3 separate regions of the Homo sapiens genome follow, and all the other regions are linked to region 3. Evidence: fine-mapped expression QTL. A gene starts in region 3. Each other region holds a variant in brackets. All regions are shown on one strand. Distances are from middle to middle.

Region 1 (10,689 bases), 58 kb after region 3:
GCCCCAGGGCACTGGTATATTAAAGTGGAGCTCATCTGCCTACCTCTCAACATGATGTCTCAAAGGAAGTAATGTTGTAGACCCCGAAGTGGAAATATTAGATAGTATTGTTATTTTTCAAGATCCATCAGGCCAAGGGTGACGGTGAGTTTCTGCTAAATCTGCTAAGCATGTCAGTAAGAATACATCCAGGTGCCTGGACGGATTGATGGCAAACAAAACAGGTAAAGTTCCTGCATCCGTGGAGCCTTCTGTCTAGTCAGGGATGACAGGCAACCAACGAAGCAGTGACAAGGAGGTGTGACTGGAGACGTACAGGTGGCTGTAAGAGAACAGAAACCAGCCTAGGGAAATTAGGGGGCTTCATGGTGGAGAAAGATGAGGAGTGACCCCATGACAATGATGACCTGGGCAAAGAAGGAAGGAAAGAGTATTCTGGGAGAGGGAATAGCAGATATGAAGGCCAGAAGGCATGGTGCAGTAAAGGAACTGAAGAAAATTCTGCAGAGAGCATTGCATGTGCGTAGGAAAGTAGCAAGAGGTGAGGCTGGAGAGAGCATTGCATGTGCGTAGGAAAGTAGCAAGAGGTGAGGCTGGAGAGAGCAGCACAGGCCAGATGTTAAATGACAAGCCCACCATGGAAAGAAGCGTGCCGTCCAACCTAATGCTAATGGAAAGCCAAGGAAGGGTTTTAGGAAAGACTATAACCTGATAAGATTTGTGCTCTAGGATAGAAAACAGATTGTAGGAGGTCCAAGACCAGACACTGCTGCAGGATCCAAGTGAGGTGTGACAGTGGCTGGGAGGCACCAGGGTTCATCTAGCTGGTGGAATACGCTGGACCATGCAGGGGCCTCATGAGTGCATTAAGTACCTGGGAGGAAGAAAGGGAAAGAACAATAAGGGGTCTGTGGGCTCTAACAGGGGATACAGGGCACTGACGGCAAACCTGCTTTATCATCTGTGCTAGCTCTAGATGAGTGTAAAAGCTGAAGTGGATTCCCACGAGGGAATCGGCTTTGCTGGTAATTGCTTTCAGAGGCTCCAGGCCAACCCCAGGTCCTCTTCTAAGTGCCCTAGAGAGATGGATAGATTTGTCCTTCTGAAGACTTCCAGGGTAGGTTTGGGATCATCAACAGCAATCTCAGAACCATCCCAGGATTTCTGCTCAAACACTGGATCTTTGCCTCTAGCTATAAAATAGACCAAATCCATGGCGGGATGTGGCAACCAACCACGTCTTTTGAACTCAGGAAGTTCAGCAGCCAGGCTCATGGCCTGTATTGGTATATTACATCCTGTTCCCAATCCAGACCCAAATCCTAATGTGTAGGGAAAAAAAAAAGAAGATGCATTTCAGGCCTAAATTGGTCTTTGAGATTGTCTAGTATGGTCTCCTGAACGAACTTTCATGAAAATCAGACTACAAACCTAAAGCAGTTCTTTGATCAACTTCCTTTCTGTTTCATTTCCTGGATTTCCATGGAAATCTGTGATGAAAGAATGATTGCTGTTCTGCTTCCTGCAAGTGTTCACATTCTCACCTCTTAGTAACATTTACTGGGAATACTATAAGCAAGGAAACCCAGGAGGAAGAGGTGCAGACAGAGTTGATGATATTTAGAGGGACTCAATCTGACGGTACTTCTGGGGTCTGCTGGAGACCCTCATTTATACAGCTCGCCCCATGCACAGAGCATCTGAAGAACATCATGGCCATGGGAAACTGAGGTCCTGTGGGCTAGTGGAAGGCCGAGCACAGGTTGAAGCAGTGTGGAAGAGAAGTTTTGGCCCCGAGACTGACTCTGGCAGAGCACACTGCAGAGACCATTTTTGTGCTTTTGCTTCACTTCACTTTTCAAAGATTGTTTGAGCTCATCTTGGACATTTGGAAGCAGCTAAATCTAGCAAGGAACAGGATCATTGGCTTCTTCATCTAACAGTATTTGTGTCTGCAGCTGCACTGCCTTCTGAGCACAGGTGTGCAGAGCGTGATTAAGTGACCCCAGAAATCTGACCGCCTGGGTGTGGTGGTCATTTTTCCACCCTGATGCAATTATCTCAGGGTGTGGGGACGCTCTGTCCCACTCCCTTTTTTTCTCCCCTGCCACCAAACTCTGGATTTCAGTTAATTGTGAAAAATAACAAAGAAGTGTTATTTTTTATGCTGTTTTGCTGTTTATGCTGTTGTTGTTGATTTGCTTCTTGAACAGCTTCCTCTGATCCCTTTTCAAAGTCGGCCGAAAAAGCAGGAAGCCAGGCAGGACAAACTTTTGAAAAAGTCTTTCAGCACCTTCGTGGATCCGAATTTTAGTGTGATTTGGCAGGCAATGCGGGGTAACATGTTCCAGTGTTTTAACTTGCACAGAATTGCCAGATTAGCGATTGTTTGACTTGTCCAATTAATGAAATGTGGAAAAAAAAAAAGGGTGGTAACTGTTAAGCCTGCTGCAATGTCTAGACACGAGGGTGGGGGTGGGGAGGTGGAATACCAAGGGAGGCGACACAGAATTTCCTTGCCTTTTGGTTTTCTCATACTCAGTATTTCTGCCGTGGCACAACACCACGTGGGCCAAGATATTGATAGGTGAGAGATAATGTTTTGGTTAAAGTGAAAAATAAAGTTTCAGGCTATATGCAGGAGACATTTCTCATGTAAGCGTGTTAAAAGAGAAGCTGCAATCACTTAGCCTGCAGGGTAAACACACATGTGCATAAATATACTCTACAACCATGCCAATCCATCCAGAAGGGAGATGCTCGGGGGAACTTGGTTTTTGGAGAGAAGATTTGGGGTTCAGGAGAGCTTGTAAATGTCACGCAGGCACTTTGTGACCTTGTGTTTGGGTCACAGGCAGGGTGGGTATTGTGACATGCAGGGTTATAAGATAAATATGCCAACTGACTCATAGAATTGGGAGGACAGGCAATATAGGGGATTGTGAATTAATTAATTTTTTTTTTTTTTTTAGATGGAGTCTTGCTCTGTTGCCAGGCTGGAATGCAGTGGTGCGATCTGGGCTTACTGCAACCTCCGCCCCCCAGGTTCAAGCGATTCTCCTACCTCGGCCTCCCAAGTAGCTGGGACTACAGGCACGTGCCACCACACCCAGCTAATTTTTGTATTTTTTAGTAGAGACGGGGTTTCACCATGTTGACCAGGATGGTCTTGATCTCTTGACCTCGTGATCTGCCTCCCTCGGCCTCCCAAAGTGCTGGGATTACAGGTGTGAGCCACCGCACCCGGCCATGAAGAAATTTTTACTCTTAGTGCCTTGGTGTCTCTACTGCCCAGCAAACTTCCTTCAAAGCCCATGATGGGCAGAAAAAACCCGAGAGAGAATTAGACAAACATCTAAGGGTTTGGGGTGAGATCCCCATAGGCAAAAATCAAAACAAAACCACTTATGTTTAAGTATAGATATAAATTATTACAACACTGTACATAATGGTTATTATGTACACAGATGCAATTACATGTACTCTACCTCATTTGCGTAAGTTTAAATTAAAATTTAAATGACTGAATAGACTTTTTTTTTTTTTGAGACAGGGTCTCGCACTGTCACCCAGGCTGGAGTGCAGTGGCGCCATGTTGGCTCACTGCAACCTCTGCAATCTCCGCCTCCCAGGTTCAAGTGATTTTCGTGCCTCAGCCTCCTGAGTGGCTAGGATTACAGGCGCGTGCCAACCTGCCTGGCTAATTTTCATATTTTTAGTAGAGACGGGGTTTCACCACATTGTCCAGGCCGCTCTCGAACTCCTGACCTCAAGTGATCTGCCCACTTCAGCCCCCCAAAGTGCTGGGATTACAGGCGTGAGCCACCATGCCCAGCCTGAATAGGCTGACGTTTATGCATGTTGGGCAAAGGCTTTCCCTTTGCTTTTATTCAAAACCAGGTGGGCATCTCCCTCCCTCAGTCTCTCAACCCCCCAGGACCCTCCTTACAGACCCACATTAAAGGCAAGTACGCAAGCCTCGATTCTCACGCAACAGGCCCCAGCAGCATGGAACAGACAGCAGAACTTGACCTTTCCCCAACCCTGCCCTAGCCACAGTAGCTCCTATCCTCAGCGTCACTTCACTCCCTTAGGTGAAGGAACTGTTATTCAGAGAAGGAAATCCACGTGTAGAATGGCTCTGAGGAAATGGGACACATGAGAGGAAGTTTTCATTGGTGTCCAGGAGGAAGAAGCCTGGGATAGGTGCTACTGCCTAGGATGGCAGATGTCACAAAGAATAACCTTGGGCAGTGGGGGAAGTAGAGGCAAGAGTAACCTAGAAGCCTGGAATAGAGGAAGGAGGTGTGGGAATCAAAGGGCCCTGGGGGGAAAAAAAGAAATGGAACCACCGTATTTCAGAGTTAGGAAGAAAACCTTGGAGAATATTTTAGTCCAATCCTTTCATATTCCAGATGAGGAAACCAAAGCTCAGAGAGGTTAACTGCTTTGTTCAAAGTCATGAGGCATGTGGTAACAGACCTAGAATTAGAATTGAGATGTCCTGTCTCAAGCCTAGTAGACTTCCTACTGTGATGAAATATTAAATGCATTAAAACCACAACACTAATATTGAGTTAATTTGTAATTCAAAGGAACTGTTGTTTCTTAACCAACTAAATGCCCTATTGTTCCTCATTAAGAAATCAGATAATTCTGAATCTGGACCATTCCATATTTCTCTAATGGAGTTTTAATGTAATCACACCAGATACTATGAGCAGATAATGAATGTAGTAAATTTTAAATCATTTCATTA[C/T]ACACTAATTTGTTTTACAGAATCAGATTCATGCTTCTTCTTTTTTTTTTTAAGCACAAAATCACAAAGTGATTTTGCTAGACAAACTTCAAAAGACTGGGAAAGACTTTGTTTCTAGTATTTCCAGCTAAGACTTGAAAAGCCTAGAGGCTGGAAACTGTATAGAAGAGTCAGCTGGTTCTGTCAAGGCTTCCAGTGTAGTTTTGGCACCTGTCACAACTTAAGCCTTGTTTGGACCACATGAAATATGATGGATTTTTTTTATTGCTAGCAAATCATTCAGGCACTATGTATTAGTCCATTCTCATGCTGCTATAAAGATTACCTGAGACTGCGTAACTTATAAAGAAAAAGAGGTTTAATTGACTCACAGTTCTGAATGACTGACGAGGCCTCAGGAAACTTATAATCATGGCAGAAGGCGAAGAGGAAGCAAGGCACATCTTACAGGGCAGCAGAAGAGCGAGAGGGTGCAGGAAAAACTGCCACTTTTAAAACCATGAGATCTTGTGAGAATTCCCTCACTATCCTAAGAACATCATGGGGGAATCTGCCCCATGATCCAATCACCTCCCACCAGGTCCCTCCCTTGACACATGGGGATTACAATTTGAGATGAGATTTGGGTGGGGACACAGAGCCAAACCATATCACACTATAGAAGCAACATCCTCTTTTGTGCTGGGCTAGCAAATTGGTTAGACTTGCCTCATTTTTTCAGAATGGCCAAAGTCCTTTCCAAATCCAAAACTTTGGTAGTGATTCTACCCTACTATGATTTATCTTCATCTTTAAAGAGCTATACTCCATGATTTTTAAACTACTAATTTGGAAGGTGCTAACTGCTTAGAAAACAGGGCTTAAGACACTTTATTTCCTCTCTTAAAACTTGTTTTTGTTTTGTTTTGGGGTTTTATTTTTTTGAGACAGAGTCTCACTCTGTCACCCAGGCTGGAGTGCGGTGGCATAATCTTGGCTCACTGCAACCTCTGCCTCCCCGGTTCAAGCGATTCTCCTGCCTCAGCAACCCAAGTAGCTGGGATTACAGGCATGCATCACCACGCCCAGCTAATTTTTGTATTTCTAGTAAGACGGGCTTTCACCACGTTGGCCAGGCTGGGGTCTCGAACTCCCGACCTCAGGTGATCCACCCACCTCAGCCTCCCAAAGTGCTGGGATTACAGGTGTGAGCCACCGCGCCCGGCCCCTCTCTTAAAACTTCTTATAAATAACTAGGACTTGCACGGCAGAAAATGTCAACAATCAAAATTTTAGTTTCTAAAATCTCTAATTTTTTCTTGCTTTCTATTCAATCTCATTTTCCCTCTTTCAGAGATTCCTATTTTCCAGCACTGACATGCATTAATTATTTTCAAAACTGTGTGTGTATATCTTTTCTGTCATTTCAACAGCTTTGAGGGTAGAAGGGAAAGCTGGCATGTGGGTTCAGTCTGCTTTCTTGGTCTAATCATTGTAAATCACATATAAAATCATTTTTTTGAATGATAATCTTGAGGAGTCCAGAAAACTGAACTCAGTTGATCTGATACAGGCCATGCTAAGGTCTGTGTTCTTTAGTTACAGGACCAAAAGACCCATTCTGGGTCCTTGATTCTCTACAAGGTATACCCAATGACAGCTATTTCCAGTCAAGACTCTCTTCCAAGGATGATTGTTCATGGCCTCCACTAGAAACCTTTATAGAAATATTCTTGTGGGGCAGCGAATGACCAGCTCTGTCTTGCCATCCATTCTGTGGTGAACGTGAGAAGACAATGTGACTGGAAACAAGAATAGCCATGTGGAGCAAGGTCTAGTTCATGGTGATCCTAACAATCACATGTGGTCCAGGGTTACACCAGGATTCTGGATTACATAACCTAAATCTTCTTTAATAACCACACAGGAGCTAATTTTGTATCTAAAAACAGTGGGATTTTTGGATGAAATATATTGTTGCGTGAATATGCTCTTTTTCATTTTTCTCCTCAGCGCCCCCACCTCTGAATCGTGGGGCATTTAACTGACAGTAAGGAGACAAGTCCTTAACTTGTCTTAACCTCTTGGTGACAGGGAAGATACTGCTAGATACCTATACTCAATGCCCATTTTCTCTTTGATGACACAGACTTCTGTTCTGGAAGGCAGCGTGCCTAGCTAAAAATACCCTTCCAGATTCCCTTGCAGTGAAGTAAGGCCAGGTGACACATTGTAGCTGATGGGACCTGAACAGATGTCAACAAGGGGTTTCTGGGAATGTGACTGATATTCTGATATGGCTGCTACCCCCACCTCCCTGTCTTGTTGATGCTTTCTTGCTGGAATGCAGACATAAGGCTGGTGATGGAGTCACCATCACATATTCACTGGGTAACAAGCACAGTATGGAAAACCACACTCTAAGGATGGTGGAGTTCAAAGTGGAAGGATCCTAGGACATTGCTTGCAGATCAGATTGCCAACCTCTGAATTCCACCGATGTGAGAAATATACCCCTATTTGGACATATCACCACAGTTAGGCCATATGCAGCTAAACACAATCTTAAATGATGTTATTCAGTCAATTCACCTACAAACTTTGAAATTTACTACCTATTCCCTAAACTATATCCTAAAGGTACTGATGAAAATTACGTAAATTCACTTTAACAAGTCTTGAACATATCTTCTCAATAATATGAGGCATTAAAATATTTTAACAATTCCCAAATGGCAATACATGTTTAAGAAAATTTGCCAGCCTTTAGGCAAAGCAGCAAGTTGTGATGTGATTGTGATTGTCTATGCCATGTATAGAAATGATCTGACCATTTAAACATTATGTTGGTGGTATTTGCATTTGTAATATCAGACATGGTTGAATTTTAACTTAAATTTGGTTTCATGATTGTCACTGAAAATTTTTAAAAGACGACATGATGCAGTTTTAAAATGAAAAATGTCTACACAAGAAAATTGCCTGACATGTTACATATAATAGAATTAAAAGAGGTAGAGATTGAGAAATTTCTTGGACCAGATCATAGAATTTTCCAAGCAAGGAAATGTTAGTGGAATTGACTCATCAATCATAAATGTTACTAAGATGCTAATGTCTATCAGTAAATAAGCTTTCTACTGATATCTAAGAGAAATTACTTAACTTCTGGCGATGTATCATTCAATTAAAGAATAATGAAACTTCAAGTTTAACTAAATAGGAAATGCAGACACAACTCTGTATCCTTTGATACGCTTCACAATTGCAAAGGTTTAGTGAGCAGACTCAACTTTAATGGGGTATAAAAAGGAAACAATTTTCCTAGTAACTTTTATCAATCAATGACTGTTGATTCCCCCTTTGCCACAAGGTATCAAGGGCTCTTAATGGTATTTCAGTGTTATCCAAGAACCTTCCAGTGACTTTTTGGTTATTAGAGTTGTGTCATTTTATTTTCACAGACTTGGTCCTGTTCACCTGAGTGTGAAGTCATTTGTCTCTTCTCCATCCCCAAACACCAACAGACTTATGGTTCCATCGGTAAACATTTTTGTGTATATATATTTTTTCCTTTGAGAATTTAAGTTTTTTATTAGCTGGGCATGGTAGCACATGCCTGTAATCCCAGCTACTCAGGAGGCTGAGGCACAAGAATCACTTGAACCCAGGAGGCAGAGGTTACAATGAGCTGAGATAGTGCCACTGCACTCTAGCCTGGGAGACAGAGCGAGACTCTGTCTCAAAAAAAAAAAAAATTAACTTTTTGAATTAATATTATATCTACTTGTTTCAAACATTTAAATACACTATATAAAATATGTAATTTAATATATTATAAATATATAATCTATCATATAATATATAATTTTATATAGAATATACATAATTATATAGTTTTATATTTATATATAAAATTATATAATTTACATATTTTGTATGTATATATTATATATGTGTATTATATATAAAGGTTATATAGCAGAAGTCTCCTTCCCACTTCCATCTCTCACTTATTTTCCACTCCCTGCCCTCCTATAGTTATCATCTTTCACTGTTATGTATATCCCTCCAGAGTTGTTACACACGTACAAACAAAGGTAGCCTCTATATACAATGTTCTGCATCTTTCCCTTTGTTTGATAATGCATCCTAGAGAGTTTTACATGTCAGTACATACAGACCCTCCTCATTGCCTTGCTCTAGCTGCATGGATTCCCTCGTACAGCTGTACCATAATTTATGTAACCAGTTCTCAATTGATGGGCATTTGAGTGGTTTTCATTTACTTGCTGTTACAAATAATGCTTGAATAATACTGTACATAAATCATTTTAGACATAAGGAGGTGTACTTTACATGAAATTCCCAAAAATTGGATTACTGGATGAAATGGTAATATGCATCTGTAATTTAATAGATATTGCCAAATTACCCTCCACAGGGATCATGCAGATTTAATATATGAGGATGTCTGTTTCCCACAGCCTCACTAACAAGGCGTGCTATGGATTTTTGCCAATCTTATAAGCAAAAAGTGGTATCTGAATATAATTTTAATTTGCATCTATTTTTTTACAAGTGAGGCTGAGCATCTTGTCTCATATTTAAGAACCATCTGCCATTCCTTTTTTCTTGGTATCTTTTTATATACTTAGCACATCTTACTATTGTAGGGGGGTTTTTTCCTTTGAAATTCTGAAATAACTTGGCAAAAAGTACACAAAAAAATAGGAGGCATAATGAAACATTATAAAGTGGACACCTGTCTAAATATCATTTGGGTTAAAAAAAAAAAAGGGACAAAAGGACAGTCTAAGCATCCAAGTCTTCCTTACTATTTCCTTTCCTTTGCCCTAAAAGGAACCTGGCTTTTATTATAATCACTTTCTCACTTTCATATAATTTCATCATCTATGTGGTAATTTAGTTTGACATTCTCTAAAAGGAAACATATTATACATATTCTTTTGTGAGAATGCAAAATATTGCTTTGTGCCATTCATCGGGTTGTTCATGTAGCTCTAGTTCATTCATTTCTACTGCTGTGCAGTATTCCACTGTAAGAATACACCACTTTAATGTATCATTTTATTGTTGATGGAAATTTGGGTTGTTTCCAATCTGGGGCTATCAGAAACAATGCTGCTATTCTTTTACTTGTGTCTTGGTACATAAGTGGGCAAGTTTCTGAATGGTTTGTTTATAATCTGGAGAAAATATAAATTTCCAGCTTTAGAAGACAATGACAAACTGTACTTTTCTAAGTGCCACAGTTCTGGCAATTTAGACTCCTACCCTTGGTTATGAGGGTTCTCCTTATTCTTTATCTTTGTGAACATGATATTGTCAGACAGTCATTTTTGCCAATCTTGCAGGTACATAGTATTTCATTTTGGCTTTAATTTGTATTTCTCTGATAACCCATGAAATTGAGGATCTTTTCATACTTGTATTGGGTATTTGTATTTTACCTTGTGAAATGCTACAGGTCTTTTGCCCATTTTTGAAGAATTGTCTTTTTCTTATTAAAAAATCTTTATGAAGGCAATTCTTCATGAAGAACATGATATATATATATACACACACACACACACACACACACACACATATATATAGAGTCCTTCAAAGTTTTGCTTTCATAGATATTGTATATTAATATTTCTTGAGAATTTCATTCCTAGGTAATGGAGAATTTTTGTTACTTTTGTAAGCGTGGTCATTTCTTTTCATTTTTCTTTGGACATATGGCTGTTTATTAAATTTTTACCCTGCTGCTTTACTAAATTCTGTATTGGTAATCATTTTTCCATTGATTCTTTTGATAGTTTACCTCTTCTCAATTTTTATACTTCTGTTTTCTTTCCCCATCTAATTGTGCTCAGTAGTACCTCAAATACAGTGACAAATAATGGTTTTCTTTGTCTTGATCTTGACTTTAATGAGAAAGG
Region 2 (10,689 bases), 240 kb after region 3:
TGGTTGACAGTAGTATTTTTCTCTGTCTCCTCTCAGCTAATCTGGTCATTTGACCAACTGGATAGAGCAAATATTGTCTGAAATGAAGCAAATACATTCCATTTGATTTTGGTGGGAGACAAATTTTTAGGCAGGGAAAACGATTAGCAGATAGTGTCATGCACAGCAGTGCCTTTCAAATGCCAACATGCAAAACGATTGCCTGGGGATCTTGTTAAAATGCATATGCGGATTCAGCAGGTTTGGGACTGGCCAGAGATTTCTGCATTGCAGCTCCTAGGTGAGGTGATGCTGCTGTTGGGGCGGGGGAGCTGCACTTTGAGTAGCGAAGCTTTAGAACATAGCTGCCTCCATGTTCCTGGGGATTATATGGAGCATTTGCCCGTTGCCCACTGATGGATGATAAACAGCTCTCCCAAGTACCCCTCTGGGCTTGTCCTCTCAGCACTGCCGGCAGAACCAGGTTGTGTGTAGCCTGCATTAAAGCAGCAGACAAAGCCCAGGGCTCTTCTTTTTTTTTTGAGACAGAGTCTCACTCTGTCACCCAGGCTGGAGTGCAGTGGCATGATCTCGGCTCACTGCAACCTCCACCTCCCGGGTTCAAGTGATTCTCATGCCTCAGCCTCCCGAGTAGCTGGGATTGTAGGTGCCCGCCACCACCGCCCAGCTAATTTTTGTATTTTTAGTAGAGACGGGGTTTCACCATGTTGCCCAGGCTGGTCTCGAACTCCTGGCCTCAAGCGATCTGCCCACCTCGGCCTCCCAAAGTGCTGGGATTACAGGCGTGAGCCACTGCACCCAGCCGCAGTGCTCTTTTTTTAACCTGGAATAGCAACTTCTTTCAAATCTCCCTCACCTGGACTCTCCTCAAATATCTCATAACACCTGAAGAAAAACCACTAACCTCAAACACACGCCAAACCGAAACACACACACACACACACACAAACACACACTATCCCAGATACTGACATGGAGAAAGGAGTGGGGTGGGGCAGGCATTAAGCCACTCTTTTTTCTCCTGGCTTCACTATCGCACACTTCCTCATTCATTCCAGAGCAACTAGGTGTCTGTTTCAACATCCCTGGCCCCACCATTATAGTACACACCAGTCACCTTCCAGCCACGAGCTGCACATTTCTCTGTGGGGGCCCTCTTTACACATCCATGCTGCAGGTTGGAAGTGCCAGGGAATTAACAGCTCCCACCCCACCCCAGGAGCAGCCTTCAACCAATGCCTGATGCAAGTCAGTGGATCCATACCCTCAAGTGGGATAATTCAGACCGGTGTTCTACACTGGCTCCCAGAATTCCCCAGAAGGACTAAACTCCCATTGCCCCCAGTGGTGACTGGCTTGATAACGCCATCTATTGGCTGCCTTCCTGCCCCAACTCACGTGTCCATTCTATCTGTGTTTCCTGGGGTCACAGCCCAGATAAACTACTTATCTCGAATATGTGCCAAAGAGTTACCTTCTTCTTCTTCTTCTTTTTTTTTTTTTTTTTTTTTTTGAGACAGAGTCTCGCTCTGTCGCTTAGACTGGAGTGCAGTGGTGCGATCTTGGCTCACTGCAACCTCCGCCTCCCAGGTTCAAGTGATTCTCCCAACCCAGTAGCTGGAATTACAGGTGCACGCCACCATGCTAATTTTTGTATTTTTAGTAGAGACGGGGTATTTCAGCTAATTTTTGTATTTAAAAAAATTTTTTTTATTATACTTTAAGTTCTGGGGTACATGTGCAGAACGTGCAGGTTTGTTACATAGGTATACACGTGCCGTGGTGGTTTGCTGCACCCATCAACTCATCACCTACATTAGGTATTTCTTCTAGTGCTTTTCCTCCCCTAGCCGCCCATCCCCCTACAGGCCCCCGTGTGTGATGTTCCCCTCCCTGTGTCCATGTGTTCTCATTGTTCAACTCCCACTTATGAGTGAGAACATGTGGTGTTTGGTTTTCTGTTCTTGTGTTAGTTTGCTGAGAATGATGGTTTCCAGCTTCATCCATGTCCCTGCAAAGGCCTATTTAACATGGCCTAAATAGCAACTAATTATAGTTGGATGATTGTCACTGCCAAATAATATTCCACTGCATGACTACCATGGTTTATCCTTTCTACTGCTGATGGCCTTGTGTATAATTTGTACTACAATAAAAGTTTAATTTAAAAAATATACATAGACACATTGGATCCACTTTCATGGATGAGTCAAAGAGAATAACACTCAGGCTGAGGCAGAAGGATTGCTTGAGCCCAGGAGTTCAAGACCAGCCTAGGCAATATGGGAAGACTCCATCTCGAAGAAGCAGCAGCAGCAGAAAAAGAAAGAAGGAAGAAGAAATACAAAACACATAATTTTTGTATTTTTAGTAGAGACGGGGTTTCACTATGTTGGCCAGGCTGGTCTCGAACTCCTGGCCTCAAGCAATCTGCCTACTTCGGCCTCCTAATGTGCTGGGATTACAGGCATGAGCCACCACGCCCAGCCTTGGAGTTACTTTTTTTTTTTTTTTTTTTTTTTTTGAGACAGAGTCTCGCTCTATCACCTAGACGAGAGTGCAGTGGTGTGATCTTGGCTCACTGCAACCTCCACCTCTCGGGTTCAAGCGATTCTGCTCCCTCAGCCTCCCAAGTAGCTGGGACTACAGGCACCCGCCACCACCCCCAGCTAATTTTTGTATTTTTAGTAGAGACGGGGTTTCACCATGTTGACCAGGCTGGTCTTCAACTCCTGGCCTCACTCAAGTGATCCACCCACCTTGGTCTCCCAAAATGTTGGGATTACAGGCATGAGCCACCACACCCAGCAGAGTTACCTTCTGAAGGAACCCAACTAAGGCAAAACTGGTCAACAGTCAGGAATTCCTTTTGTTAATTTTAATAAAATCCTATTATAAAAAAAGGGGGAGCCCCATGGGGTTTCTTCTGAGGGGCATCTCACCAGTATCTAGATATTTTGTCTGCGTGACACCAAACAGTCAGATGGCTGGAAATAAGCCTGATAATGGAGAGAATGCTTCTCTGTTCCCGGGCTGTTTTGGGATCTGGTCAACAGAGTTGATTTTCTGGACACCCCAGTCAAGCTAGTTCAGGTCTTTTTGACCTGTACCCAGAGGGTGTATCTCTGAGTTCTGCCTCAGAAGCTTGATCACATCCCGGGGGCTCCTACAAACCACATCCTGGCTGCAGCCAACTCCCTTCCACAGGCCTCCCTCACTGAGTTTCTCTGTGGTGGGTTCTCTGCATAGCCTCTTGGGATGAGGAGTCCTTCTCAGACCTTTACAGAACAGAGCCCCTGACACTCAGTTTCAAGGGCCTACCTACATCCGTTTCCGAAGCTTTGCATCGATGGTCACTGCTCCTCTTAGCCATGTCCTCAGCTTTCTCCTCCTCCTGCCTTCTTCCCCAGACTGAAGTGGATCTGAACCTTGGCACAATCTATGCCTCTTAGTGCATTTTAGGGGATTTTAGGGCTGCCTGGGCCCCTCTATATGTTCAGACGTGTGATAGGACCCAGCCTTTTCCCCTCAAGACCTTGTATTTGAAATTCCCCATTCTATGGTTTGTCTCATCTTTGGAACCCACAGCAGGCAGAGATGTTTGGGAGGGTGGCCTCACTGGGCACACTGTCCTGGATGTCTCACAGTTTTGCATACCTCTGCCAGGCTGTGCTGCCCCCAGGCCAGACTCCTGTTTCTCTGTTTGGGCATCTTGGGGGTCCTAATTAGACACTTAGTCCTTTGGATTTGGTATTTTGAGAGTACACGTGGTATCAACAGGGCTAGCTTTAATGTTAAAACATCTATTAAAACAATAAGGGTGGATGGCTAGGTGACTGCTACTGTTACTAAAAGAGGTCCCGATCCAGACCCCAAAAGAGGGTTCTTGGACCTCATACAAGAAAGAATTAGGAGCAAGTCCATAGAGTAAAGTGAAATCAAGTTTATTAAGAAAGTAAAGGAATAAAGAATGTTTGCTCCGTAGGCAGAGCAGTGGCATGGGCTGCTCGACTGAGAATACTTAGAGTTATTTCTTGATTATATGCTAAACAAGAGGTGGATTATTCGTGAGTTTTCTGGGATGGGGCAGGGAATTCCCGGAACTGAGAGTTCCTCCCCTTTTTACACTGTAAAGGGTAACTTCCTGATGTTGCCATGGCATTTGTAAACCGTCATGGCGCTGGTGGGAGTGTTTTTAGCATGCTAATGCATTATAATTAGCGTATAATGAGCAGTGAGGACAACCAGAGGTCATTTTTGTCGTCATCTTGGTTTTTGGTGCATTTTGGCTGGCCTCTTTACCGCATCCTGTTTTATCAGCAGGGTCTTTGTGACCTGTATCTTGTGCCGACCTCCTGTCTCATCCTGTGACTAAGAATGCCTAACCTCCTGTGAATGCAGCCCAACAGGTCTCAGCCTTATTTTACCCAGTCCCTATTCAAGATGGAGTCACTCTGGCTCAAATGCCTCTGACACTACCCTGTAACTTTCTTAGTCAACTTGGGCTGCCAGAACAAAATACCATAGATTGAGTGGTCTAAACAACAGAAATTTATTTCTCTTAATTCTGGAGGCCGAGAAGTCCAAGATCAAGATGCTGGCATGGTCAGGTTCTGGTGAGTTCCCTCTTCTGGGTTTATAGACAGCTGCCTTCTCACTGTGTCCTCAGTTGGCAGAGAGAGGTGGGGGAAGCGGGGAGGGAGAGGGAGAGGGAGAGACAGGTTACCCTGGGGGTTAGGGCTTCAAAATATGAATTTGGCAGGAGGGACACACAAGTCCACAGCAATAACTGTGCATGACTCCACCCCCATCTCCCCACCCCCACCAGTATCTCATCTGTTGATCTGGCTGAAATCTGAAATTCCACAATTAGAGATTCATTTCCTTGGTTTAAAGTGTTATAATTTAAAT[G/T]AGCACAGAACCTGGTCGATGGGCCTCCATGCGAGGCCTTCTCCTGAGAGCCAGTGAAAAAGTATGAGGTCACTGGGCACCTACAAGTTGGGAATGGCCCCCACCTAGAAGACACAAAGAGTACTAAAGAGGAAATTGATTTTCTTCAAGTGAGGTGGGCTTGTTAACTTTGCCAAGGCCTGTCCTAGTCCTCAGAGTTATGTTCATATCAGTTCCTGCAAAATACCCCTTAAAATAAGAGAAATGAGTCCTTCATCTTGCTTTTTTGCATCTATGAGTGATGTGAAAGACATTGCCTTTTAAAGAGGGAGTCCAGGCCGGGCGTGGTGGCTCACACCTGTAATCCCAGCACTTTGGTCTTGAACTCCTGGGCTCAAGTGATCTGCCTGCCTTGGCCTCCCAAAGTGCTGGGATTACAGGTGTGAGCCACCACACCCGGCAATATTTTCACCGCAATACTTCATCTTCCTCCCCTACTAACATCCAAATGGTACCTGAAGTAAAGCGAGCCACTTCTTATGGCTTGTTATTGCTGGGAACAGCTGCTTGTGGATAATTAGCTCAGGCAATCAGAACACTGGGTCAGGAAATCAGGCACGTGGGTCTGACTCCTGTATGGCCTTTGCTCTTGGGGACCTGTTGAGGGTGGGTCACTGCTGGTTCAGTATGTGCTGCATGTGGAATTCCATCCCCTTTGAACCTGTACCATTAATGGGGTAACAGCTGGAGGTGCTTAACTTTGGCCCTGCATCAGTTTTCAAAAGTGCATAAAGGTAAGCACTATCCTGAAACTGTTGTTTATCTTTCTCATACATTTCTTTTTTTTTTTGAGATTGCGTCTCACTCTATGGCCCAGGCTGGAGTGCAGTAGCTCCATCCCAGCTCACTGCAGCCTTGGCCTCCTAGGCTCAAATGATCCTCCCATCTCAGCCTCCCAAGTAGCTGAGACTACAGGTGCACACCACTAGGGTCGGCTAATTTTTGTATTTTTTGTAGAGAAAGAGTTTCACCATGTTGCCCAGACTGGTCTCGAACTCCTAGACTCAAGTGATTCGCCCACCTCGGCCTCCCAAAGTGCTGGGATTACAGGCGTGAGCCACCGTGCCTGGCTATCCTTCTAATACATTTCTTTATATTTTCCTACATAGGAATATGTCCTTAAGCAAGAGAGAATGCTACTCGCATGCCTTTTAAGCTTTATAAGATTGGTGTGTTTTTTACTTTCACATTTTGCAACTTTCATCTCATTTAATACTATTTTTGTGAGATTGATTCTCTTGGCTACATGTAGCTCTAGCTCATTTTTCTTCCTTTGCTTTATCCACAAACCACTCCCAGAGAACAACTGAACTCACAGTTGCCAGGGTGGGGGAAGAGCAGGAATTACACACACACACACACACACACACACACACACACACACACACAATCTCATGATTAGTTGATTTGAAACACACCTCAAGCTATTCTCATAACTAAATCTTAATCCAACCAATAATTCCTTTAGATTTTAACCACTTAACTTTGGAAATTGTTTTATAAAGCTCTAGTTCTTCCATATGTTCACAACTCACAAAATTGGTTTTGCAAATAATCCTTTTACCCTTTGCCCGCGAGGAATCGCAAAGCTGAGTTTGCTTTCATTTGCCATCGCTTTTCTTCCCGTTTTCAGATGTCGTTATCTTTCTGTTTCCTTTTTTACTTGGCATAGATTTGCCTTCCTTTCCCAATAGTATGTCCAACTCTTTCAAAACCTCTCCATTCATTCAGCCATGCATTCTTTTCACATATGTTTATAACATCCCTAGTATGTGCCAGGCACTTTTGCAGGCACTGGGGACTCAACAGTAAACCAAGCAGACAAAACTTCTGCCTTCGGCAAAGAAGCTTATCTTCCAGTGAGTGAAGCAGACGGTATTTGAGTAAAATACACGGTCAGTTAGATGGTGTTAGGTGGTGTCTGTGGAGGAAAATGAATCTTGGGAAAGAGGCACAGGAAGCCGTGAGGGGTTGCAATTTTATATAGCATTTTTCTAGGCCAGGGGTTGGCAAACCATGGCCCAAGGCCCTCCATCTGTTTCTGTAAATGAAGGTTTATTGGAACAGAGTCACGCTCATTCACTTACATGTTTTCCATGGCTGCTTTTGCATTGCAACAGCAGAGTTCAGTCATTGCAATGGAGACCATTTTGGCTGCAAAGCCTAAAATAGTTCATATTTGGCCTTTTACAGAAAATATTTACTATTTGACCCTTTGCAGAGGAAATGCAGATTTTTACCTATGATAACTTTTGAGGATTCTACCCATGTTGTGCTTTTCAGCTTCTAAAGCGTTGTCAGGAACACGATGTCATCTGAGTGTTGAAGTAGTGTTTGTTATGAGGTAGGTCTCAGTAGCTTTGTTTTACAGGTGACTCAACTGAGGCTTGAAGGGGTTATTATGGTTGTCCAGGGTTGCTGACCTTGTAAAGTGGTCGTGTTTTTTGGTGTTTTTTTGAGACAGGGTCTTGCTCTGTTGTCCAGGCTGGATGCAGTGGCATGATCATGGCTCACTGCAGCCTCAACCTCCTGGGCTCAAGTGATCCTCCCACCTCAGCCTCCCAAGTAGCTGGAACCACAGGCATACACAACCATGCCCAGCTAATTTTTGAATTTTTTGTAGAGATGGGGTTTCTCTATGTTGCCCAGGCTGGTCTCAAATCCCTGGGTTCAAGGGATCCTTTCAGCTCAGGCTCCCAAAATGTTGGGATTACAGGCATCAGCCACTGTGCCTGGCCTAATGCTGGTGTTCAACTCTAAAAGCTGGTGCGTTTTCTACTTTCCAGTGACAAATACAACCCAGGTTTTTAGCGTGACGAGCTTCTAAGCACATGAAACACAGATAGGCAATCACGTGTAGGTGTCACGAATGTGGGCTCAGAAGCTCAGCAGCCCAAGTTCAAATGCTTGTTCTGCCACTTACCTTTGTGACATCAGGCAAGTTATTTAACCTCTCTGTGCCCTGCCTCAGTTTCCTTGTCTGTAAAGCAGTCATAATTGTATGCCTTCTAGGTCAGGTGGTGCTGTATCTTGGTTTTGCCAAGGCAGCTCTGATTTATGCCTGTTTTTTCCACATTAATCAATAGTGCCCCATTTTACTCTCACATACCCCCATTTGGACATTAAATTATGTGCATGCCCTAACCAGGGTCGTTGCAGAGATTAAGTGAGTTAATACAAATAAAGCAAGTTAATACAAATAAAGCAGTTCAATCCATGCTGTAGGAAGCATTTGCTAGACTTTGGCTGTTGTTTCTTGTCAAGGCCATGCCAGCCCATCACTTAATTTTTTTTTTTTTAACTTTTTTAGATGGAGTCTCGCTCTATCGCCCAGGCTGGAGTGCAGTGGCGCGATCTCAGCTCACTGCAACCTCCACCTCCTGGGTTCAAGCAGTTCTCCTGCCTTACCCTCCAGAGAAGCTGGGATTACAGGCGCCTGCTACCACGCCTGGCTAATTTTTGTATTTTAGTAGAGATGGGGTTTCACCATGTTAGCCAGGCTGGTCTCGAACTCCTGACCTCAAGTGATCTACCTGCCTTGGCCTCCCAAAGTGCTGGGATTATAGGCATGAGCTACTGTACCTGGCCTCACTTAATTTTCTTCTGACCCATTGCTTTGTCCCATTAAGTCTGAACTGATTTCTGTCTGGAGCAATTTTGCTTATCTGGGTTAATAGGTGATTGAGGATTCATCTTCTGTGTGGCAGTGCCTTCTGGCTCACTCCCTGACCTCCCTTAGCAGCTTTGCTCAGATGTCATCTTCTCATGATGGTGTCACAGGACACCTCTCTAAAATTGCTACCTCCCCCACCTCCAACACACTTCATATCCACTTCTCTGCTTTATGTGTTTGCTTTATAGTTATTACTAACATACAGGTTTTACTGAGCTACTACTGATGTGGTTCTGTTTTGCTGTTACTTGGATAAAAAAAAAATCCTACAAAATCTGCTATGCCTGTGAGAATATTTATTTTTATGTTTTAAAAAAATGTATCTTTATCATTACATTTTCAGAAATTACAGAAAAACCCAGTAAAAAATTCAGCCCACCCATGGTCCCCCCTCCAGTTGGCATTTTGCTGTGTATCAAGAATACAGCAATTTTACCCCACCTCTAGAGGGAGTACATTTTCTAATCTAACCATATAACTTTAGCTAAACAGCTTACAAGCAAATGACAGTTTACTATGTTCTCTAAGTATTATTTTGATTCCTTTAAAAGGAGATTTTTCCTACACATTTTCATCTGAAGCTGGCCTAGGAGGAAATATAAACACACTGGTCTAGCCTAGTCCCATCTCTAGAAGTAAAGGAAAAAAAAAACATAGAAGAGAAATTGAGTGAAAAGGCATGTTCCCTCACTTGCAGTTAGCTTTCTGGCACGGTGGCAAAGCATTGGCCTGGCGCCTGCCAAAATGAGCATCTTAATAGAAATTATCATGTGTGACATTCCTTTGAATTGCTAACTTTCTTTGTAATATTGAGCAAGTTGCTTTTTGCATCATTGATATAATTCATCTTCTTATGTGTTTGCTTTATAGCTCTCTTTAAAACTGTCAGTGTTTCACAGATTGATCCATTTGCGTTTTTATTTGTTTGAATGCCGCACTGGCACGTACAACCCAAAAGGGCACAGTTGTGTGTGTCTTGTTCACCACTGCACTCCTAGCACCTCCCGTAGTGCCTAGCACATGGTATTTACTTAATAAATATTTGTTGAATGGGAAGGTGCCTGAGCACAGCAGAGTACGCTCACCCTCGATGCAGTGAGGGTGTCCTGCCACCGGGGCCGGGGTGGGGAGGAGATGACCCAGTATAAGGTCCTCAGCTGCGAGAGAATGAACCTCCAAAATGTGGTCTTGGTCCCTCAAATAGCATTCACACTTTCTCCCCCAGGCCCCGGATTCCTGTAACAAAGGATAAGTCATTAATTCAGTCCTCCGAGTTGGTTTAAAGAACAGATGCCTTTGTTTTTTTTGAGACGGAGTCTCACCCTGTTGCTCAGGCTAAAGTGCAGTGGCGCTATCTCGGTTCACTTCAACCTCCACCTCCCGGATTGAAGCGATTCTCCTGCCTCAGCCTCCCCAGTAGCTGGGATTACAGGCACCTGCTACCACGCCTGGCTAATTTTTGTATTTTAGTAGAGATGGGGTTTTGCCATGTTGGCCAGGCTGGTCTCGAACTCCTGACCTCAAGTGATCCACCCGCCTTGGCCTCCCAAAGTGCTGAGATTACAGGCGTAAGCCACAACGCCTGGCCAAAGAAGAGATACCTTTTGAGAGAGGAAGCTCAATAGGACCTTCACACGAAGAGGTCAGGTGTGATATTAGCTCCATTCCTGGGACAGCTGTGATCAAGTGGGAGCGGAAAGAAGAGCATAAGGAGGGGAGGCAGAGAGGGGCTGGGTGGAGTGGCATGGCCAAGGAGGAAAACATGCAGGAAGGGCAGCAGGCCCATGCCAGACCTCTTCTCTTCTAGAAAAGCACATGAAGTGTCAGCCACAGAGATGTATGTGGAGCAATTTGCAGAGTGCCTGGTGCCCGGAAGCAGTTAACGATGGCACTAACACTCACAGCTAATATTTTTGAGCATGTGCTCTAAGCCAAAGTCTGCTAAGCACTTTCCCTGTACTGACTGACTCATTACTCATAAGAATTTTAGGACATAAATAAGAAGTTTATCCCCATTTGATGGGTAAAGAATCCCAGGTATGGAGGCAGTAAATATCAGCAACTAC
Region 3 (10,689 bases):
CCCCAACATATTCATAGGCTTCTCTTCCACCCTGTGCACTGTGTTTGCATCTTCCTTGGCCTCCAAAATGAATCCATGCTTTGGCCAATGAAACAGGATTATCCCGCATCTGAAGGCAAGCAGCGCAAAGAGGGGCAAAAAACAAACCCATCCTTTGTTTTCAAAGAAATTATAGTGAGAATATAATGAAATTAGTGGCTAAAGAGACTAGATCATCTGTGAGCTGTGTCTGTTTATGCCATTCTTTTGTTTGTTTGTTTTGAGACGGAGTTTTGCTTTTATCACCCAGGCTGGAGTGCAGTGGTGCGATCTCGGCTCACTGCAACCTCCGCTTCCCGGGTTCAAGTGATTTCTCCTGTCTCAGTCTCCCGAGTAGCTGGGATTACAGGTGCCCACCACCACGCCCGGCTAATTTTTATATTTTTAGTAGAGATGGGGTTTCACCATGTTGGCCAGGCTGGTCTCCAACTCCTGACCTCAGGTGATCCACCTGCCTTGGCCTCCCAAAGTACTGGGATTGCAGGCATGAGCCACTGCGTCTGGCCTTTTCATGCCATTCTTAGTCATAACCAGATACTGTTCATTTTGAGCAAGCCAAAATTATACTTCAAATAAAACTATGATTTAATCTCCACTCTAGGCAAACTTGACTCTTCTATCAAATTGGATCTGTAAGAAAAAATATTTTAAATTGATTGAAGTATGAGATAAATACTTTAGGGAGACAAGACAAAAGAAAAGATACTTAGCACTCTCTGACTTAAACACAATGGGCTTGAGCCAGCTGTTTTATAATTTATAATTTGAACAGCCTAAATCTTGGACAGGCTCCTCCTGAAGCCCCAGTAGAAATGTTCTCTGAAACACTGTTCTCTTGATGTTTGGGTGGCTGTCACTGTTTGGAGGTAAAAAGCTTGGAGGCGGGGGGTGAGAAATGATTCCTTTCCAGTTTTACAACTGAGCAAACCTGCTCACAGCAAAAGTATTCTATGTAATGGCTAAGGTTTAGGTTAGACCACAAAATTTATCCAGTAGTATTATCATACTATTTTAGCTCCCTTCTGCCACATTCTCACACACTGACGTGTAAACCAACATGATTTCTCCATAAAAAGCACATCTGATGTGTTCATACCTTACCTAATCCAGCACTGGACTGATCTTGGTGAGAAGAGTTAAGACTGATCTGCCAAGTATACCCTGGAGTGTACAAGCCAATAGGCAGAAAGCTAATTACGTATATCTTCACCCCTCAATAGACCATTATTGGACAAAGCCAACAAACACAGACAATGACAGTGCTGGAGGAAAACAACTGAAATACTAGGAATCAGTGTTTCAGTTAACTTACAGGCAGAGACAGTCCACTAATGTATCTCAGAAAAAGTGAAGGAAATTTAGGAATTTGGGAAGAAGTAAAGCTGAGAGAAGGTGAAACAGCAAATCAATGGTTATATTTAGCAATCAAACAGATGTGTTATTCTTGGCAGTTAATAAATATTTTGTGGGGCCAGAAATTTATTGTATTGTGAAATAAATTTCCAAATACAACTACAGAAACTGCAGTTTTTGGAAGGCAGGAGTCCAAACCAGCCAGGCGACAGTAACAGAGAAAAGGTAACTTCTTTCTCAATCCTAGAGTTGAAACAATGAGGCAGGATAATGCTATACAATAAAGAGCAAGAAGGGGCCCAGTGCTGTGGCATGCGCCTGTAATCTTGCGCCTGCAAAGATTAGGACTGCCAGAAAGCTACTTAGATACTTTCTCCCATGGCTTCATTACTGTGTATCTCAAAAATAAGAACCACTGATATGAGTGAAAGGAACAAAGTTAAAGAAGCTAAAAGTCCTATCAGAAGTGTGTGTGTATCATTTCTGAGTGAGAGCTTGTTGAAAAGATAAGTTTACCATTCATTTTCTCTGGAGAGCCATAAAAAGATTCTCTGTTAAATGGGATTCCTCTCTGACAGAGACCACGAACAACCCACTCAAATTTTAAAAAATAAAAACTAGGCCGGGCATGATGGCTCACACCTATAATCCCCAGCACTTTGGGAGGCCAGGGTGGGAGGACCACTTGAAGCCAGGAGTTCAAAGCCAGCCTGGGCAACATGAGACTCTCATCTCTACAAAAATAAATATTAAAAAATTAGTCAGGTATGGTGGCACACACCTGAGGCTACAGTGAGCTATGACTGTGCCACTGCATTCCAGCCTAAAAAAAAAAATTAATTAAAAAAAAGTAAAACTTTAACTTCCTAAATACATAGGAACCATTCATGTGAAAGAGGAAAAACGTTTCAAAAATTCCAGATTCTAACAGTGTAAATTAAAACTCTTACCTACCACTTATAAAGCCAAAACATTGCTAGTAAAGATCTCACAAAAGGAGCCATACAGAAATGCAAACAATAAAATAACATTTTAAATGCATTCAATCTTCTTCCATGAAATAAGAACTATGAAAACTATAAACCTTATTCAAAAATAAAAACACAATCTTGATATTCATTTCAAAGTTTCACACCAAACACTCTTTGATGAGACAATGGCAATCTTTAAGCCTGAGATAAATCTCCCTACCTGCCTGGTTTTAAGAGAGTGAGAGTAATCCCAGCACTTTGGGAGGCCGAGGTGGGAGGACTGCTTGAGCCTGGAGATGGAGACCAGACTGGGCAACGTAGCAAGACCATGTCTCTAGTAAAAAAAAAATTTTTTTAATTGGCTGGGTGTGGTGGTGGCACATGCCTGTGTTCCCAGCTACTCAGGAGGCTAAGGCAGGAGGATCGCTTGAGCCCAGCAGGCTAAGGCTGCAGTGAGCTGTCCTGCTACTGCACTCCAGCCTGGGTGACACAGAGACCCTGTCTCAAACAAAACGAAAGTAAACCAGGGAGAATAAAAAAGGAAAAAACACACAGCGTCTTGGGAGGTTAAGGGGATTATCTTGTGTCACAGCCATCAGACCAGCTGCCTACCCTTCTCCCTCCCCTTCTCCCTCCCTTCATGGAGTATCACACAGATGGTAGGAGTCTAGTGCAGTAAGTCTGCCTAATTTGGGTGAGCCACTGCTTATTGTTTACTGTCAAGATTTTTGTGAAAGGCTTATATGCAAAATGTCTTTTTACATGTATAATATAAAAAACTAAAACGTTGATCTATTTTGTTACTTATAGTTAAGTAAAAAGACATCCATAAGTATGAAGAATTACAAAATACAAAGAGTCAACACGTTAGTTTATTATTCCACCCTTTAAAAAAATAAAAGTGAAACTTTTAGTTCTATCCTTAAAAGCTTCAGGAATGGTTCCTAATTAGTCCATGACAAGTTGAGTGACACAGAAAACTTCTAATTATCTGAAGAGTTTACACCACCAAGTGGAAAGATACCTGGGCACTTTCAAAGGTGACTTCATATCTGGAACTCAATTTTCTTCCTACTGTAAGGTGGCGGGGGGGGGGGGACCCTGCAAACTGATACAGGAAACAATGAACCTGACTTGCAGAAGAAGAAGAAAACCTACATCAGGTGCCTAAAGGAAGGATGTTTCTGAGCCCGTAACTACCGGTACAGCCCTCTACCCACAGATATCCCTAAAGGGAACGCTTTTTTTTTTTTTTTTTTTTTTTTTTTTTTAAAATACGGAGTCTTGCTCTTGTCGCCCAGGCCGTAGTGCAATGGCACGATCTCCGCTCACTGCAAACTCCGCCTCCCGGGTTCAGGCTATTCTCCCGCCTCAGCCTCCCGAGTAGCTGGGATTACAGGAGCCCGCCACCACGACCGGCTAATTTTGTATTTTTAGTAGAGACGGGGTTTCACCATGTTGGCCAGGCTGATCTCGAACTTCTGACCTCAGGTGATCCACCTGCCTCAGCCTCCCAAAATGCTGGGATTACAGGCCTGAGCCACCGCACCCGGCAGTTTTGTCATTATTTTAGGCAACAGGATTCCTAGAGGGGCATACCTCTTACCTTTTGACAATCTCTGCCTGTACTAAGTAGAGCGGTATCAAGTCCTGGGGGAAATACCAGAATCCCGAGGCCTGCAGTTACACCAATTAACACGACCTCACTGTGCCTAGGGGGGTCAGAATGCTAGCTCAGGTGTTAGGCACCTCTAAATGCTGAGGCCATGAAATAGTGCTAAACTCTACCCCCCACCCCTCAAGCATCGTTGCTCTTTGCTTTAGCTACTTGTACCCTAAGAATGTGTAGGTAAGGGGAGGGGAGGGCAGCGTCCTCTGAGTTCTGCTTCGGCGCTCCTGAACTCACTGCCAAGAAAAGCTCAGATGTTGAGGGAGAGGGAAGAGGAGGAAGTTTGTTTCTGAAGAGGCTGACCTTCTGTGAACCCGCCTCAGAACTGAGCACAGGTGTTCAAGAAATGTATACCGAACTGGAGACTCAATAAATAACACTATTCAACACACATGTTATCGATTATGTGCCAGGTGCTATTTGGAATCGTTTCCACACGTGTCACTCGTTGAATCCTCAAGACAACCCCAAGAGGTGGGGACTCTTATTATCTCCATTTTAGAGTTAACTGATAACATTTCAGAGATAACTCTTATCTCCATTTAGAGATTAACTCCACTTCGAGCAAACATTTTAGGAAACCGGGTCCCCGGGACGTTTAAAAACTTGCTCAAGGTCACAGGGCTAGTCAATGGTGAGGGTGCTGTTTGAACGAAGCCACCCTGTCTCCAGATTCTACGCTATTACAAAGCCTCTCGGTCAAGAGAAATTAAGTTAGAAGATCCGAAATGAGTGGGGTCAATTGGAGACTCGAAGGAGGCCGAGGCCACCCTTTCCGTGTCCTGTAACCCAACAGGCACCTCTTGAGCACACCGACTTCGCCTGGCGCACAGCTGGGCCCGGGGGCGGGAGGTGGGTGTCGAGAAGGGGGAAGTTCACACGGACCTTGGCGTGATCCCGGTCCGTGCCGCTTCTCCCGAGGCCAGGAACGGAATGCAGGGCGCGGAGGCGAAGTAAAGGCTCCCCGGCTCCCCTGGCGCCTTCCACCCCGCTCTGGGTGGCCCGGCCTGGCCCGCCCTGCCCTCCGGCCCCGCCTCAGCCCCACTCGCGCCCCATCCCGGCCCGCCCGGGAGGTCTCACCGGCTTCTGAGAAGCGCCAGACAGCACGCGGGAGACGGCGGCGAGCATCTTCCTCATGAAGCACAGGCAGTGGCGGCAGCGGCGACTCCTCACAACCCAGGAGGCACGACGCGGGTGCCCCCAAGTCTCCTTCAGGTGCCCCAGCAGACGCCACGCCTCAGTCGCACCGCGGCGTGACAGAGTCGTAATAACGTCATGCGCTGCGCCGGGCCGCGGGCCAACCAGAACGGCGTCCAGGGGGTGCCCCGCCCCCGCTAAAGGCCTGAGGCTGCCCATTGGGTATCAGCGCCAGAGAGGGAGGGGCTGAGGGCTCTTTCCGACGCCACGCCGCGGGCGGGTGAGGAGGCGGGGCTTGATAGCGCCTGCGTGGGAAGGTGGGGCCCCCGCCTCCAGGGCGCCGCGGGAAAGGAGCCTTCCTAGATTCCGCTCTGCTGACTACCGGGGAGGTTGTGCAGGCCCCGTCCTACCGAGCGCCTACTCCTGCCGGTGCTGCAGCTCTGCAGCCCTCGTTCAGTACATCTCGTTCAGTACACTAGATGATGAAGATTAGCAGCATGCTCAGAGCCAAAAGACAGAACATCTGGTTTCTGTAAATGGTCTGCCACTAACTTTGTCTTTAAAAGATCACGTAGCAGTTGGACAGTTCTGCCCTGTCTACTTGAACGCGGATCAAAAAATTTGTTTCCCAATATATGTCGAGAGGACAATGGGAAAAATCTTTTTTCTCTAGTTATTGGTTCACAGGCTCACTGCGAGTTAACAGCGTGGCTCAGCCGATGATAAAAGCACACACAGAGACAAAACACCAAAGCAACAAGGGGCTCTATTCAGAGGATCAAAGGGCTCAGGAACCCATTGTGTTGTGTCCTAGTGGGATTGCACCTGGGGTTCCGGGTTCAGATTTGGGCTCCACATTTTAAGGGGGATAATGAGTAAACTGAGTGGAATCCAGGGGACAGTGGTCAGAACGGTGAGGGGCTGCGATTGTGACTTATGAAGAACGATTAAAGAAGTTAGGAAGAAAACAGGCTAACTAGAATTGGCTGGGTTATGATGTAACAACTGACCTCCAAATTTCAGTGATTTCAAGAATTTGAAGTGACGCGAGCCATCGTACTCGTAACACAGGTCCCTCACAGCGTGGCACCCTCTCTCTGGAACTTAGCTTGTCTCATGGATGAAGAGAAAAGGGATCATTTAAACCGGCTCTCAAAGCTTCTGCCCAGAAGTGACACATGTCACTTCCTCTCAATTTTCACGGACCAGAGCTAGTTACCCGACCATGTCTGAGTTCCACAAGGTGAAATATAATCCTCCTGCCAGGAGGAGAACAGAAAATTGGATGAACAGTAAAACCAGAGAGGATTGGATATGTCTTCACACATTTTCAGGCCAGTCATGTTCCAGGAGGAAGAGCTATTTTGTGTGTGTGTGTGTGTGTGTGTGAATAAAATCATTTCATTTCAGCATAACAATGAATTTTCTAACAATGACAATGGTCCAATGAGATAATTCTCTCCCAGTGTCACTGAAAGTATTCAAAGCAGAAGTTCAAAGCATGACCAGCTCTCAGCATAGCTAGAGAAATAATTTGGGCACTGGGCCAGACTCTGGACTGAGAGATCGTGTTGCAGTGGAAGAAAACTTCTTAAAGGAGTGAGAGGGCGCCATTAAAAGGCAGAGATGGACGTGAGAAACTTGCATGGTATGATTTCAGCAGCTGCTGCTGCTGATAGAATATGAAAGGTAAAAGAGAATGAAAAGGTTGGAGGCCAGATGTCCAGCTCAGGAGAAAAAGCTGGTCTGAATGGTTTGGGACATGTTGACCTGGTGGTGGCAGTGGCACAGCTATCTGAAGATGTCCCCCGGGAAGTTGGAGTTGTAAGTCTGGAACATTTGCTAAAAATATTAATTTGGGAGTCATCTCCACGGGGTGGTGATATTGGTTGTGCATGTACGGGAACTCTGTAGGCCATATGAATATGAATTCATTCATTCATTTGCTCATTCATCCAACACCTATTATTGAGCACCGATTTTGTGTCAGACACTGTACTACACACTGAAGATATAGCAAGGAACAAGTAAAATATAGGTCCTACTTAAATACATGATTGAACAAATCAATGGGTTAGAAGGAACAACTTTTCCTTACAGTAGAATTCCAATTAATTAATATAGAAGGAATGATGAAAATAGAAAAAGAAAATCACCATTTGGCAAAGACCACAGTAACTGTTGCAGGTGAGAATTATCATCAATACAGGCTAAAATTAGTGGGTAAATGTATGATGAGAAACAGGACATTTGCCTCATCTCAAATGATCTCTCCACTAGATTCATTACAAAGTTTAAAGTAACTTTGCAGTGCAGAAACAAAGTAACCAATTTTTCAATGACTAGGATATTTTCTCTGCACTTCTTGTTCTTCATATATATACATATATATACACACATACGTGTATATATATATATTTTATTTATTTATTTTTTTGAGACAGAGTCTCGCTCTGTCGCCCAGGCTGGAGTGTAGTGGTGCAATTTCAACTCACTGCAAGCTCCGCCTCCCAGGTTCACGCCATTCTCCTGCCTCAGCCTCCCGAGTAGCTGGGACTACAGGTGCCCGCCACCACGCCCGGTTAATTTTTTTTGTATTTTTCGTAGAGACAGGGTTTCACCATGTTAGACAGTATGGTCTTGATCTCCTGACCTCGTGATCCGCCCGTCTCAGCCTCCCAAAGTGCTGGGATTATAGGCATGAGACACTGCGCCCGGCCTCTTTTTTTTTTTTTTTTTTTTGAGACAGATTCTCACTCTGTTGCCCAGGATGGAGTACAGTGGTGACATCTTGGCTCACTGCAACATCTGACTCCCAGGTTCAAGTGATACTCCTCATTCAGCCTCCCGAGTAGCTGGGAAAACGGGCGAGCACCACCATGCCCGACTAATTTTGTATTTTTTTAGTAGAGACGGGGTTTCACCATGTTGGCCAGGCTGGTCTCAAACTCCTGACCTCAGGTGATCTGCCCACCTTGGCCTCCCAAAGTGCTGGGATTACAGGTGTGAGCCACCGCGCCCAGCTGTTTTCAGATATTTGAAAGCAGAGTTGGAAGCAACTTTGAAGGTGAGGGACACTGTGAGATGCTGTGTCAAGTGGTGACAGGTGATGATTGTGGTTAATAGTCATTAACTATAGGCTATAGTAACGTTATAGTAATGTTATAGTCATTAACTATAGGCTATAATAACTATAGGCTATAGTAACGCGCTAGAACATTCACAAAAGACTCTTGTATCAGGAGAGGAGGCCGGAGAGAAAGAAAGATTTGCAAAAGGCGGGAAGAGAAAGTCTTAAGAAAGGAGGGCTCGTTAATCTTGGGGGAAATTGTAATCCCAGCACTTTGGGAGACCAAGGCAGGAGGATCACTTGAGGCCAGGAGTTTGAGGCCAGCCTGGGCCACAAAGTGATACTCGTCTGTACAAAAAATAAAATAATTAGTCTGGTATGGTGTTGCATGCCTGTAGTCCCAGCTACTAGGGATGCTGACGAGGGAGGATTGCTTGAGCCTAGGAGTTTGAGGCTGCAGTAAGCTATGGCGGCATCGCTGCATGGCGGCCTGGGTGACAGGGCGAGACCCCATCTCTCTAAAAAACAAAACAAAAAAAACGTATCTGGGTGAAGCAGGGCAATTTTGATTAGAGACCCTGAAATATGCCTTTTTACCTTTCGTTAGCGAATCACCCTACAAGTATTCGATCAAGCTGAGCTTTAAGGCAAATCATGCTCCTTGACATGTCTCCGGTTTTCCAGTAAGAAACACCCATCCCCCAGCAGATGAATTAGAGTAGGACAATCATATACATGTGTCATAAAAGTCAACAAATCTTTGCAAATGTCTTTGAGGTACTAAGCAGCAGCTGGTGAAAGGATTATGGCTAGGGGTCATTTTAACTTTGGAACCATATAAATGTTTTTACACGACCATAAAACACAATGACATAACAATGGAAATGAAATATAACAAACCAATTTAATAACATACCAAGTTGTCAGCATAACCCCGCAGAGAATGATTTCAAGTTATTTCACACCACAGCAATGTGACTGCATATGCCTGGTGGGGTATAGCCTAAAGACAAAAGGAACTGGAAAAAAAAATCTTAAGGCGAGGCTCACACCTGTAATCCTAGCACTTTGGGAGGCTGAGGTGGGAGGATCATTTGAACCCGGGAGTTTGAGACCAGCCTAGGCAACATAGGGAGACCCCATCTCTACAGAAAAAAATCTTAAATTGTTCTCATTTGTCAGGTGTTATTATTTAAGACTGCACATACCCACACTGATAAAGTAAATATATAATTATGTTAATGCCATTGGGAACCAAGATTTTCAGTATAAAAAACAGAGACACAAATGTAAAATTCAACAGGTCAAAGCCAAGAGGTCCTGAATTTGAATTGGAAATATCAGTATAAACTCATGATTATTTCCCCCCCTCAAGATACACACACACACACACACACACACACATACATACATCTTGGCTAGGCTCGGTAGCTCACACTTGTAATCCCAGTACTTTAGGAGGCCAAGGTGGGCAGATCACTTGAGCTCAGGAGTTCAAGACCAGCCTGGGCAACATGGTAAGACCCTGTCTCTACACGATATAAAAAATTAGCCGGCCATGGTGGCGCATACCAGCAGTCCTAGCTACTAGGGAGGCCAAGGTAGGAGGATCACCTGTGCCTGGGAAGTGGAGGCTGCAGTGAGCCATCATCGTGCCAGTGCACTCTAGCCTGAGCAACAGAATGAGACTGTGTCTCAAAGCAAAAACGATGTGTGTGTGTGTGTGTGTGTGTGTGTATGTGTGTGTGTATCTTAACTCTCTCCACTGGAAATACCTAGAAGCAAAGACCAGCCCAATAGTAATTATTCTGAAATCTGGCAAAGGGAAAGAACCAAGGATTTATCCTGTCTTTCTTACATAGACTGAATTTCAATGTCAACAAACAGTTGATGAGGAATAGTTCTTTATAGAATAATTTCCAGCAGTAAATAAAAAAGGAACCATATAATTTTAATATCCCTGTGTTGTAACCCCTGAGGAAGTACTAGATCAAGCTGTTGGGGGATTTGTAATGTTTGGGCGGCTTTAACAAAATACGTGAGACTGGGTAACTTATAAACAACAAACACTGATTGGGCTTGATGGCTCATACCTGTAATCTTAGCACTTTCCGAGGCTGAGGCAGGTGGATTGCTTGAGCCCAGGAATTTGAGACCAACCTAGCAAACGTGGTGAAACCCCATCTCTACAAAAAAGACAAAAATTATCTGGGCATAGTGGCAGGTGCCTGTAGTCCCAGCTACTTGGGAGGCTGAGATGGGAGGATGGCTTGAACCCGGGAGGTCGAAGCTGCAGTGAGCCACGATTGTGTCACTGCACTCCAGCCTGTGTGGCAAAGCAAGACCCTGTCTCAAAAAAAAAAAACAACAAACAACAACAACAATAAAAACCAACCAAACAAACAAACCCAGACATTGATTTATTATGGTTCTGGCTGTTGGGAAGTCCA

Alleles and levels. Positions count from the first base shown, and alleles are read on the strand shown. Sizes are in standard deviations (SD) of each study's normalised expression. Not every link is listed here.
With allele C in place of T in region 1, the expression in skeletal muscle of the gene that starts at base 5,280 in region 3 is lower (small effect, 0.25 SD a copy in GTEx).

Evidence for each region. PIP is the estimated chance that this variant, and not a neighbour inherited with it, causes the effect.
Region 1: its variant is fine-mapped to the expression of PDHA1 in skeletal muscle (GTEx, PIP 0.93).
Region 2: its variant is fine-mapped to the expression of PDHA1 in esophagus muscle (GTEx, PIP above 0.99).

What each region holds. Positions count from the first base shown.
Region 1 is chrX:19,280,022-19,290,710 of GRCh38, reverse strand. No RefSeq gene overlaps it. Among named protein-coding and RNA genes, the nearest start is that of PDHA1, 59 kb to the left of the region's middle. The variant C/T (reference allele first, on the strand shown) is at 4,760.
Region 2 is chrX:19,096,752-19,107,440 of GRCh38, reverse strand. All of the region lies in intron 1 of ADGRG2 (adhesion G protein-coupled receptor G2), which reads left to right. Among named protein-coding and RNA genes, the nearest start is that of ADGRG2, 20 kb to the left of the region's middle. RefSeq lists an enhancer at 1-448. The variant G/T (reference allele first, on the strand shown) is at 4,912.
Region 3 is chrX:19,338,518-19,349,206 of GRCh38, reverse strand. It overlaps PDHA1 (pyruvate dehydrogenase E1 subunit alpha 1), which reads right to left and starts at 5,280. Exons shown (of 11, transcript NM_000284.4): 1 at 5,113-5,280. The coding sequence starts at 5,169.